3 linked regions of the Homo sapiens genome follow. The protein of the gene in region 1 purifies or fractionates together with the protein of each later gene. This does not show direct contact. Each region holds a gene or a part of one and is shown in the gene's direction. Other genes may lie near its edges.

Region 1 (3,500 bases):
TCTCTCAAGTAAAACTCATGGAGTAAAGTCTGTGATTTCTTGACAAATTTTAGTATAAAAATATAATACTGTACTTTCTATCATTATTATATTTTCTTTGTAGTATGTAAAATAGGACAAAATTACATTTATCTTTGTAATTATGTTTTTTTCTTTATATCAAGATACCTTATACTTTTTGATATTTATTTTTAGCTTAATTTAGCTTCATTTTCATACATAAAACACTTAATCACAATGAATTTCTAAGTTGCTGTTTCTTCTTTTTCTTTTTCTTTTTTTTTTTTTGAGACATAGTCTTGCTCTGTCGCGTAGGCTAGAGTGCAGTGCCGCAATCTTGGCTCACTGCAATGCAACCTCCGCCTCCTGGCTTCAATCAATTCTCCTGCCTCAGCCTTCCGAGCTGGGACAGGCACATGTGATCATGCTGGCTAATTTTTGTAGAGACAGGGTTTCATCATGTTGGCCAGGCTGGTCTTGAACTCCGGACCTCAGGTGATCTGCCCACCTCGGCCTCCCAAGTGCTGGATTACAGGTGTGAGCCGCCACGCCTGGCCTTGTTTCTTCTATTCTTTTTAAAGACAGTTTTAGAGACAGTTTTAACTTGATGCTGTTAAATTATTTTTTTATGCCATCTGTTGGTTCTTGGAGAAATTACAAGACACGTTTTGATCAGTAGGAGCTTAATATTTTTAATTTAATTTAATTCTATTTTTACTTTTTTAGAGACAGTGTCTCTCTCTGTTGCCCAGGCTGAAGTGCAGTAGTGTGATCATAGCTCACTGTAGCCTCGAACTCTTGGGCCCAAACAATCCTCCTTTCTCAACCTCCTGAGTAGCTAGGATTACAGGTGCATGCCACCACGCCTGACTATTTTTTTAATTAAATTTTTAAAATTTTGTTTTTCTTTTATATATACATTTTTTATTTTTATAAAGACAGGGTCTTACTATGTTACCTAGGGTGGTCTCAAACTCCTGGGCTCAAGTCATCCTCCTGCTTTGAAATGCTGGGACTACAGGCGTGAGCCACAGTGCCCAGCCAATAAATGCCTTTTTGTCTTTATCGATTTTATATATATATATGTGTGTGTGTTTGAGATGATGCCTTACTCTGTCGCCAAGACTGAAGCCCAGTGGCTTAATTTTGGCACACTGCAGCCTCTACCTCCCTGGGCTCAGGTGATCCTCCCACGTCAGCCACCCAAGTAGCTGGGCCTACAGGTGTGCGACACCACACCCAGCTAACTTTTGTATTTTTTGTAGAGACAGTGTCTTGTCATGTTTCCCAGGCTGGTCTTGAACTCCTCGGCTCAAGCTATCTGCCCACCTCAGCTTCCCAAAGTTCTGAGATCACAGGTGTGAGCTACTGTACCCAGCCATTTATTAATAATTATAAAGCGCCTTTGTGTGTTTTACATATTATTTAAATCATGTTTAGAAACTTTGATTTAAAAATTCTAAGTTCTAGGCTGGGCACAGTGGCTCACGCCTGTAATCCCAGCATTTTGGGAGGCCGAGGCGAGTGGATCACGAGGTCAGGAGATTGAGACCATCCTGGCTAACACGGTGAAACCCCATTTCTACTAAAAATACAAAAAAATTAGCCGGGCGTGGTGGTGGGCGCCTGTAGTCCCAGCTACTTGGGAGGCTGAGGCAGGAGAATGGCGTGAACCCAGGAGTCGGAGCTTGCAGTGAGCCAAGATCGCGCCATTGCGCTCTAGCCTGGGCGACAGAGCGAGACTCCGTCTCAAATAAATAAATACATACATATTCTGAGTTCTAGATCTACATTTTCTTTATTTCTTTTTTTTTTTTTTTTTTTTTTGAGGCAGGGTCTTGCTCTGACACCCAGGCTGGAGTGCAATAACGCTTTCTCGGCTGACTGCAGCCTCCGCCTCCCGGGTTCAAGTGACTCTCCTGCCTCAGCCCCCCAAGTAGCTAGAATTACAGGCATGCGCCACCACGCCCAGCTAATTTTTGTATTTTTGTTTAAGACAGGGTTTCACCATGTTGGCCAGGCTGGTCTCAAATCCTGACCTCAGGTGATCCGCCCGCCTCAGCCTTCCAAAGGGCTGGGATTACAGGCATGAGCCACTACGCCTGGTCCTAGATCTACATTTTCTTTCTTTTTTTTTTTTTTTTTTTTTTGAAACGGAGTCTTGCTCTGTCTCCCAGACTGGAGTACACTGGTATGGTCTCAGCTCACTGCAACCTCTGCCTCCCGGGTTCAAGCAATTCTCATGCCTCAGCCTCCTGAGTAGCTGGGATTACGGGGGCACGCCACCACGCCCAGCTGAATTATTGTATTTTTAGTAGAGAAGGGGTTTCACCTCGTTGTCCTTGAACTCCTGGCCTCAAGTGATCCGCCCACCTCGGCCTCCCAGAGTGCTAGGATTACAGGCATGAGCCACCGAGCCCGGCTTACATTTTAATTATCAATTTTAAGAGGATGTTTTAATGGGAATGAATGTATTTGATATTCAGCCATTCATATTAAATTTTATATTGCAAATTCATAATGCTTTTGATTACCTAATGATGTTCTGAATACATTCAGATATAGTAGGATATTTAGATGTGTTTCTTGGTTTGAGTTTAATTTTACCCTTGGTTTATAATTTGGGGATTTGAACATTTTTCTTATTTTTATTTTTTGAAGGATTGCCTTGACAAGTTCCGAACTCCTTTATATATATGGTGCCCTAGACTCAAGAGTGAGAGCCTTGGTGTTCAGTGTACGGTGCTGGGCTCGAGCACATTCACTAACAAGTAGTATTCCTGGTGCATGGATTACAAATTTCTCCCTTACAATGATGGTCATCTTTTTTCTCCAGAGAAGATCACCCCCTATTCTTCCAACACTAGATTCCTTAAAAACCCTAGCAGGTAAGACTAGAAAGAAACTTCTCCATTTTCTTTTTCCAATGTTATGAGTAAATATAATTACCATGTGTTACCAAAGTCCCGTCTATTTGTTTATTAGTCATAAAATTTGTCTTGACTTTTTTTTAAAGTCTACCGGAGTCACGAGAGCAGATGATTTGGGAAGCTAGGGCCTTTAGCATTTTTTGAGAGTTCTGTTTTCTTTGTATCAGTTGGCAAGGTTGTTTACAGCAGTTGTGAGATAGCTGGAGCTTCTCCCCTAGTTGACCAAGTCTAGAATGACCTTTTTCAGATACAACTTGTTCAGATACAACTTTTGATTGGATCACAGTCTCAGAGATGACTTTCAAATCTGAACTTATGTTTAGACTTGTATTAGAGATACTAAAACTGCTTCGTGATGTTTCAAAGATTCTAAATGTGTTTTTAATGAAAAGCATATAAGCAGTCTTAGGTGCATTATTTTAAATTTGACATACTATATTGTTTGTATTATAAATGATTTTATAAATGCCTCCCAGATTCAAGTGATTCTTGTGCCTCAGCCTTGCTGAGGCCTGCTGGAGAAGTTATGTTATAAAATCTTGAAACTGTAAATGCTAAAGGGAAGATAAT
Region 2 (3,500 bases), on another chromosome or scaffold:
GACAATCGTGCAATGTCCCTGGAGCAGGAGTGAGATATCAGATGGACCTGTTCAGGACTGGGGGGGGTCTCACTCCCAGCTGGATCCTTCAAGCCCAGCGCAGCCCCCCAGATTCCACATGTGGGGCGGCAGGGACTCCAGGCCTGAACTATGCATAGCCAGAAGGGTCCATTGCAGGGCTGTGTAGACTGAGGCCCAGAGAGGAGGGCTGAGCAGTCCCAGAGATGCTTGGAGGGACCTCTGTGATAGCCTCGCTTGTGTTTTCCAGGCCCGAGCTGCTCACTGAGGGAGTCAAAGAGCCCATCATGGATAGTCAAGGTACCCAGCGCGGGGTCGGGAGCCATGGTGTGGGCGGGCAAGGGAGGGCCCCAGGCCTCTGCCACCAGCCCCTCCTCCTGCTGCCTCTGTCCTGCTCCCATCCTGGCCCTGGCATTCTCCCCACACCCCCACATTGGGTTTCCCCTAACGATGCCATCTTGGGTCCCAGGAACTGCCTCCTCACTTGGCTTCTCTCCCCCTGCCCTGCCCCCAGAGAGGGATTCCGGGGACCCTCTGGTGGACGAGAGCCTGAAGAGACAGGGCTTTCAAGGTAAGGTTGAGCTCACGGGGAGGTCTGTTGTCCCAGCACCAGGACATTGACCTGGTTTGGGTTTGGAGGGCCAGGCTGGAAGTGGGGAGGAGCTGGCCCCCAACTTCAGGGCCTAAGGGACCAGGCAAGCCAGGTTGGCAGCCCAGGCCCGGCTGTACCCTGCCAGCTCTGTGTTAGAGACTCCAGGGGAGAGGGGGTGCCTACAGGTGGACGGTCGGGGGAGCCCAGGAGCCTGCCTGCCCCCTCCCTGCCCCACCCCCCAGAGGTAGCTGACACGCCCACTCCTTTTTCAGCAATCAGCTGTGGTCTTAGTGCTTTGAAATCAGAATAGGAGCCAGACGCGGCACCTCACGCCTGTAATCTCAGCACTTGGGAAGGTCAAGGTGGGAGGATCGCTTGAGGCTGGGAGCTCGAGACAAGCCTGGACAACATAGAACCCGTCTCTATGTCTATTTTTAAGAAAAGAAATCAGAGGCCGAGTGCAGTGGCTCACGCCTGTAATCCCAGCACTTTGGGCGGCCGAGGCAGGTGGATCACTTGAGGCCAGGAGTTCAAGACCAGCCTGGCCAACATGGTGAAACCCCGTGTCTACCAAAAAAATACAAGAATTAGTTGGGCGAGGTGGCGTGCACCTGTGATCCCAGCTACTAGGGAGGCTAAGGCGGGAGAATCGCTTGAACCTGGGAGGCGGAGATTGCAGTGAGCCGAGATCATGCCACTGCACTCCAGCCTGGGTGACAGAGCAAGACCCTGTCTCAAAAAAAAAAGAAAGAGAGAGAGAGAGAGAGATGGTGGTCTGGGATCCCTCCAGCACATGCTGGCACTTGTCTTTGTTTGTTTGTTTGGATGGAGTTTTACTCTTGTTGCCCAGGCTGGAGTGCAATGGCGTGATCTCAGCCCACTGCAACCTCCGCTTCCCGGGTTCAAGCAATTCTCCTGCCTCAGGCTCCCAAGTAGCTGGGATTATAGGCACGTGCCACCACACCCGGCTAATTTTTGTATTTTTTAGTAGAGACGGGGTTTCACCATGTTGGACAGGCTGGTCTCGAGCTCCTGACCTCAGATGATCTGCCCACCTCAGCCTCCCAAAGTGTTGGGATTACAGGCATGAACCACTGCACCCAGCTTTTTTTTTTTTTTTTTTTTTGAGACAGAGTCTTGCTCTGTCACCCAGGCTGGAGTGCAGTGGTGCGATCTTGGCTCACTACAACCTCCACCTCCCAGGTTCAAGGGGTTCTCTTGCCTCAGCCTCCCAAGTAGCTGGGATTACAGGTACGCACCACCATGCCTGGCTAATTTTTGTATTTTTAGTAGAGATAGGGTTTCACCACATTGGCCAGGCTGGTTTCCAACTCCTGCCCTCAGGTGATCCTCCTGCCTCAGCTTCCCAAAATGCTGGGGTTACAGGCATGAGCCGCCGCGCCCGGTCACACTTGGGCGTTTTTAATGAACACTTTCTGGGTGAGGGTGTCTTGGTGGCTCATGCCTGTAATCCCAGCACTTTTGGAGGCTGAGGCAGGCAGATCACTTGAGCTTGGGGGTTCGAGGCCAGCCTGGGCAACATGGCGAAACCCCATCTCTACCAAAAACACAAAAAAGAAATTAGCCAGGTGCGGTGGTGCACGCCTGTGGTCCCAGCTACTCAGAAGGCTGAAGCAGGAGAATCGCCTGAGCCTGGGAGGTGGAGGTTCCATTGGGAGCCGCCAGGCCCATCCCCTGTGTCTGTGGGGACTGCCCATCCTCCTCCATCTGCTAGATCAGCTGGGCTTCCATTCCCTCGCTTGTCTCCAGCCCCCTAGTGACTTCATGAAGCCCCCGCCCCCTGCCTGCCAGCCCAGGGCACAGGACTCCGTACTCTATGGTGTCCCTCCCCTCCGGGGCTTATTTATTGGTTTGGTGGTTTTCAAATGTCATCAATTAACTTAATTTCCAACTCATCACTGTTGTGGCAACAGTGCATGTCCTTCTGAAAAAAAGACATCTCCATCAACATGTCGGTGCTGAAGGACCTGAGGGGCCCACTCCAAAGATCCTTTAATTGCCGGAGAAGGAGTTCCCCATAATTAGAAAATCATCTTCCTTAAAAGTCACCAAGTGCTTTTTCACTCAACAGCCCAAACCCATAATCGTTTTGCGCTTTGCAGAAAATTATGACGCGAGGCTCTCACGGATCGACATCGCCAACACACTAAGGGAGCAGGTCCAGGACCTTTTCAATAAGAAATACGGTAAGCAGTGCAGAACCCCCGGGGAGGGACACGCAGCTGCTGTGCACAGAGAAGTGGGAGGCTTCCCAGTTCCAGCCGAGGGCATTTCTGGGGAAACAATTCACCCCTTTACATGTATTTCTTGAGCATATACTACGTGCCAGGCACTGTCTCAGGCACTGGGGATATTGCTGTGAATAAAACAGACACAGTCCCTGTACTCATGAGCCTTGCAGACCAATGAGGTGAGATACACTTTCAAGAACTACACACAGAATTTAATAGACAAGGGCCCGGCACAGTGGCTCCTGCCTGTAATCCCAGCACTTTTGGAGGCTGAGGCAGGTGGATCACTTGAGCTCAGGAGTTCGAGGCCAGCCTGGGCAACATGGCAAAACCCCATCTCTACCAAAAACACAAAAAAGAAATTAGCCAGGTGCAGTGGTGCACACCTGTGGTCCCAGCTACTCAGGAAGCTGAAGCAGGAGAATCGCTTGAGCCTGCGAGGGGGAGGTTGCAGTGAGCTGAGATCGCGCCATTGCATTCCAGCCTAGGCAACAAAAGCGAAACTCCGTCTCAAAAAAAAAAAAAAAAAAATGGAGCATATGACATGGGAGCATATTGGTGTGGCTTTTTCTTTCGTTTCTTTTTTTTTTTTTTTTTTTTTTTTTTTTTTGAGACAGGGTCTCACTCTGTCACCCATG
Region 3 (3,500 bases), on another chromosome or scaffold:
AGCTCATGAGTTTGAGACCAGCGCTGGCAATATAGCAAAACCCCGTCTCTATGAAACATTTTTTTAAGATTAGTTGCGCATAGTGGCGCACACCTGTAATGCCAGCTGCTCGGGAGGCTGAGGTGGAAGGATCTCCTGACCCATAAAAAAAAAAAAAAAGTGACAGCAGTGCTTTACTATTAACTACACTCTAGACTTTATTTGGATTTTGCTGTTTTTCCACTGACATCCTCTTTCGGCCCCAGGATCCAAGCCAGGGTCCCACCTTGCATTAATAACCCTCTCAGCTTAAGGAGTGCTGGACAGGTCTCCTGTAGAACATCCCCAGCCTCAGGTCATCTGGTGTATTTCTCATGATTAAAGAAAGGTTACTGGTTTTAGGAGAGAATCCCACAGAGGTGAGCCTGCCTCTCACACCACATCTGGGGCACCTGAGATGCACACGTGGCTAGTGAGTGGAACCTTCACTACCGGGTCAGGACGGTATCTGCCAGGGTTTCCCTGGGAAGCTACTATTGTTTGTTTCTTTATTATTTGGAAGCAAGTCTCTAAGCCTACCCCACCCTCACCAGGTGGAGGTAATTAAGCTGTATGCTGCTCTATCATATTGTTAGTTATTATCTAGTTATTTTATACATTCTTTTCTTATTCCATTTGTGGTTTGGTGGAATTTTGTTGTATTGCCATTTGATACCTTTCTCTTCCTCCTTTGTATGATTGTTTTATAGGGCCTGTGAGTTTTGTACTTTTGTGTGTATTATGGCAAATACCAACTTGTTTTTATGTTAAGACTCCTTTGAGCATTTCTTGCAGGACTGATCTAGTAGTGATAAATTCCCCCAGCCTTTGCTTGTCTGGGAAAGGCTTTATTTCTTCATCTACGAAGCATAGTCTTAGCTGGATACCGTATTCTTGGCTAACAGCAGTATCTACATCTATTTCCTGGAATTCTGTAAGAAAGATTCATCTCTTGAATTGTTTATTTAGGTCACTACGGACTCAGGTATATTTATTTGACTCCAGGGGCTGTAATCCAAGGTCGTGTGGTTTGTCTGAGGCTCGGGCTCAGAAGCCCATGTAAGATGTCCCAGCCTCTTGGGTTGTGACCACCTCCTTCCCCTCTGGTGCTACAAGCAGCTCCAGGCTCATCTTGTATCTCCCCTGCTCCAACTCCAGAAGCAGCCATTCCTTCAAGGAGCCCTGCTTCATCTGGATACTTTCACCTTTAGAAAACTCTACAGAGGTTTTTTGACAGTGGAGTCATCTGGCTTCAAACTTTTCTGACCACCCAGAACTGATCCCAGGACACACAGTCACACCTAAGACACAAGTCATGCACAAGGTGGCTTGCCCGTACTACCTGGGACGCCCTCTGCTGCCTTCTGCTCCATCTCCTCCATCTGCTGCCACTGCCATTGTGGGTAATGCTGGTCTCATGCCATGAAGTGACGTCTGAATCCACTGGGGGCAGTCCGCTTTCCCCACATCAGACAAGCCCTGACCCAGCTGTGATCAGAGGTTCACGGTGATTGCAACTAAATATACTGAAGTTTTTGTGCAGCAACTATTTAGTGTCTACCAATCTTTTTTTCCTTTCAGTCTTCAAATAAGTCTACAGATTGAGGAAGAAGGTCCTTCTCAAGGACCTTCAAGCAAGGGCCAAGCTTCTGTTTCTAAAGTGCAAATCTGACCACATCATTATGTTTTCATGTCCCTGTGTTCACACCACACAGCTCTTCAGCCTCCACTCTGTCTGCAGTGCCCTCTTTGCCTGAACAACTTCTGTCCCTCCCAGTCCCTCCACTCAGCAGGCACATGACACCCCTCTCCTGGGATGCCTCCCTACTGTCCAGTACTGCCCTGCTGCCACTACACCCTCCATGTCCCCAAGCAACACTAGGTTTCCTGCCCCTACCCCCAGCCCTAAGAGTCTGTGCCATCAGCATGGACCACACATGAGCAGATGTCCAGGAAACATGTCCCAAGTTGGAAGCTTCATGAGGAGCTGCTACACAACCCCCTGCCCCACCTGTACCATCACAGGCCCTTCAGCTGACATGGTGGCCTCAGACCCTTTCTGAGGCAAGATCAGTGTCACAGAGTCCAGCATGGAACAGGCTCTGGGTCCTGAGGATCCTGATGGGGCTCAAGGCAGCCTCACGCACATCCTGTTCTCTCCCAGGTGGTCAAGCGGGTGCTGACCCAGACCAGCAGCGGGGGCTTCTGTGGGAACGACGGCTTCATGCACATGACCCTGGCCAGCCTGCCTTTTGGAGGAGTGGGTAGGTGCCTGCTACCCTGCCCTTCTGTTACCATTTGGTCAAATTGCAATAGTGTTACCTGCATACATTTCTGCCAAAGCACCCCAGCCCCACCTCAATGTAGAGGGACAGGCAAGGAGGCCTCACCCCAGAACCCGCATCCTGCTCCCCACCCCAGAGGGTCTGAGTCCAATCTGGGCAACACAGTAAGACCCCATCTCAAAAAAAAGTCTGTGGTGGAACCTTCTAGACCATCTCTGCACAGACACACAATTTAGTGAATTTTTAAAAATACCACACAACTATGATCACACTGCCCACTGCGATGCTATTTGCTCTTCTCCCCAACAGCATGACCTGGTGTCTGCCCCTCAGCAGCAATGCCGCCGGTGTCCTTTACTCCAGGGCAGCTGCTCCTCTAACCCCATCCCCCCTCCAGCTCTCAGTACAACACCTCCCCACCCTGAGAGGCCCGGATGAGTGCCAATCCTCCACCCCCCAGAGCAGCCCCGATGCCACTGCAGAGTCCTGGCCTCTGAGTCAGGAAGCCTCAGAGATGGTCCTAGCAACACGCTGAAGGCCCTGTGGCCCAGGTGACATCTCCCCTTTCTGAGCCCACTTCCTCCTCAGAGAACAGTAGGCCCCGAGCAGGTGACAGGCAGTCCCGCCACCTGTCCACACTCAGCACCACAGTGAACGATGGCAGGGCCAGGCAAGCTGCCTCAGGTGGGTCCATGCCCTTCCTGGAGGGCAGCCAGGGGCACAACAGTGCCTGTGCTGCTGTCCTGGCTCGGCTCGAGTTTGGGCGGCTGCCCCCGACCCCACCTAGCTGCCTCCCCAGCCCCAGCCCCAGCCTCCTCAACCCGCCTCCCTGCCCTGGAGGAGAGTCGGGGCTGTCTGTGGGCACATCTGACCCTGCTGCTCCCTCAAGAAAGCCTCCCCCAGCTCCCAGGCCCCCGAGCTGACCCTTCTTGGTGGCCGTGGCCCCACCCCGGCTTCCCCACCTGCTGCTCCCACAGCCTGAGCTCTGCCCAGGTCCCTAACACACCGCATGGCACCCACCTCTAAGGCTCCCCAAGCCTGGGTCCCTCTTGCCCCCACCCACTCTCTTCGTCTTATTAACTGCATATCCTTGGAGCTCACTCACTGCAGGAAGCCCCCCAGCCAACCCCACTCCACCCAGGCTGTGCTCTGAACGCCCTGGCCTGGGGCCTCGTCTGCCTCCCAACCTAGACGCTG

What was found.
Region 2: the proteins of MTPAP (region 1) and GTF2IRD1 purify together in Homo sapiens (affinity purification with mass spectrometry; one large-scale study listed by BioGRID and IntAct). This does not show direct contact.
Region 3: the proteins of MTPAP (region 1) and ALDH3B1 purify together in Homo sapiens (co-immunoprecipitation; one large-scale study listed by IntAct). This does not show direct contact.

The regions. Positions count from the first base shown.
Region 1 is NC_000010.11:30,321,779-30,325,278, reverse strand, and holds part of MTPAP (poly(A) RNA polymerase, mitochondrial precursor), read left to right. Parts: intron 1-2,661; coding exon 2,662-2,888; intron 2,889-3,500. UniProt on the Homo sapiens protein: Polymerase that creates the 3' poly(A) tail of mitochondrial transcripts. Can use all four nucleotides, but has higher activity with ATP and UTP (in vitro). Plays a role in replication-dependent histone mRNA degradation.
Region 2 is NC_000007.14:74,554,906-74,558,405, forward strand, and holds part of GTF2IRD1 (general transcription factor II-I repeat domain-containing protein 1), read left to right. Parts: intron 1-268; coding exon 269-318; intron 319-487; coding exon of another isoform or gene 488-532; coding exon 533-589; intron 590-2,733; coding exon 2,734-2,817; intron 2,818-3,500. UniProt on the Homo sapiens protein: May be a transcription regulator involved in cell-cycle progression and skeletal muscle differentiation. May repress GTF2I transcriptional functions, by preventing its nuclear residency, or by inhibiting its transcriptional activation.
Region 3 is NC_000011.10:68,023,827-68,027,326, forward strand, and holds part of ALDH3B1 (aldehyde dehydrogenase family 3 member B1), read left to right. Parts: intron 1-975; exon of another isoform or gene 976-1,235; intron 1,236-1,360; exon of another isoform or gene 1,361-1,506; intron 1,507-2,182; coding exon 2,183-2,282; intron 2,283-3,500. UniProt on the Homo sapiens protein: Oxidizes medium and long chain saturated and unsaturated fatty aldehydes generated in the plasma membrane into non-toxic fatty acids. May have a protective role against the cytotoxicity induced by lipid peroxidation.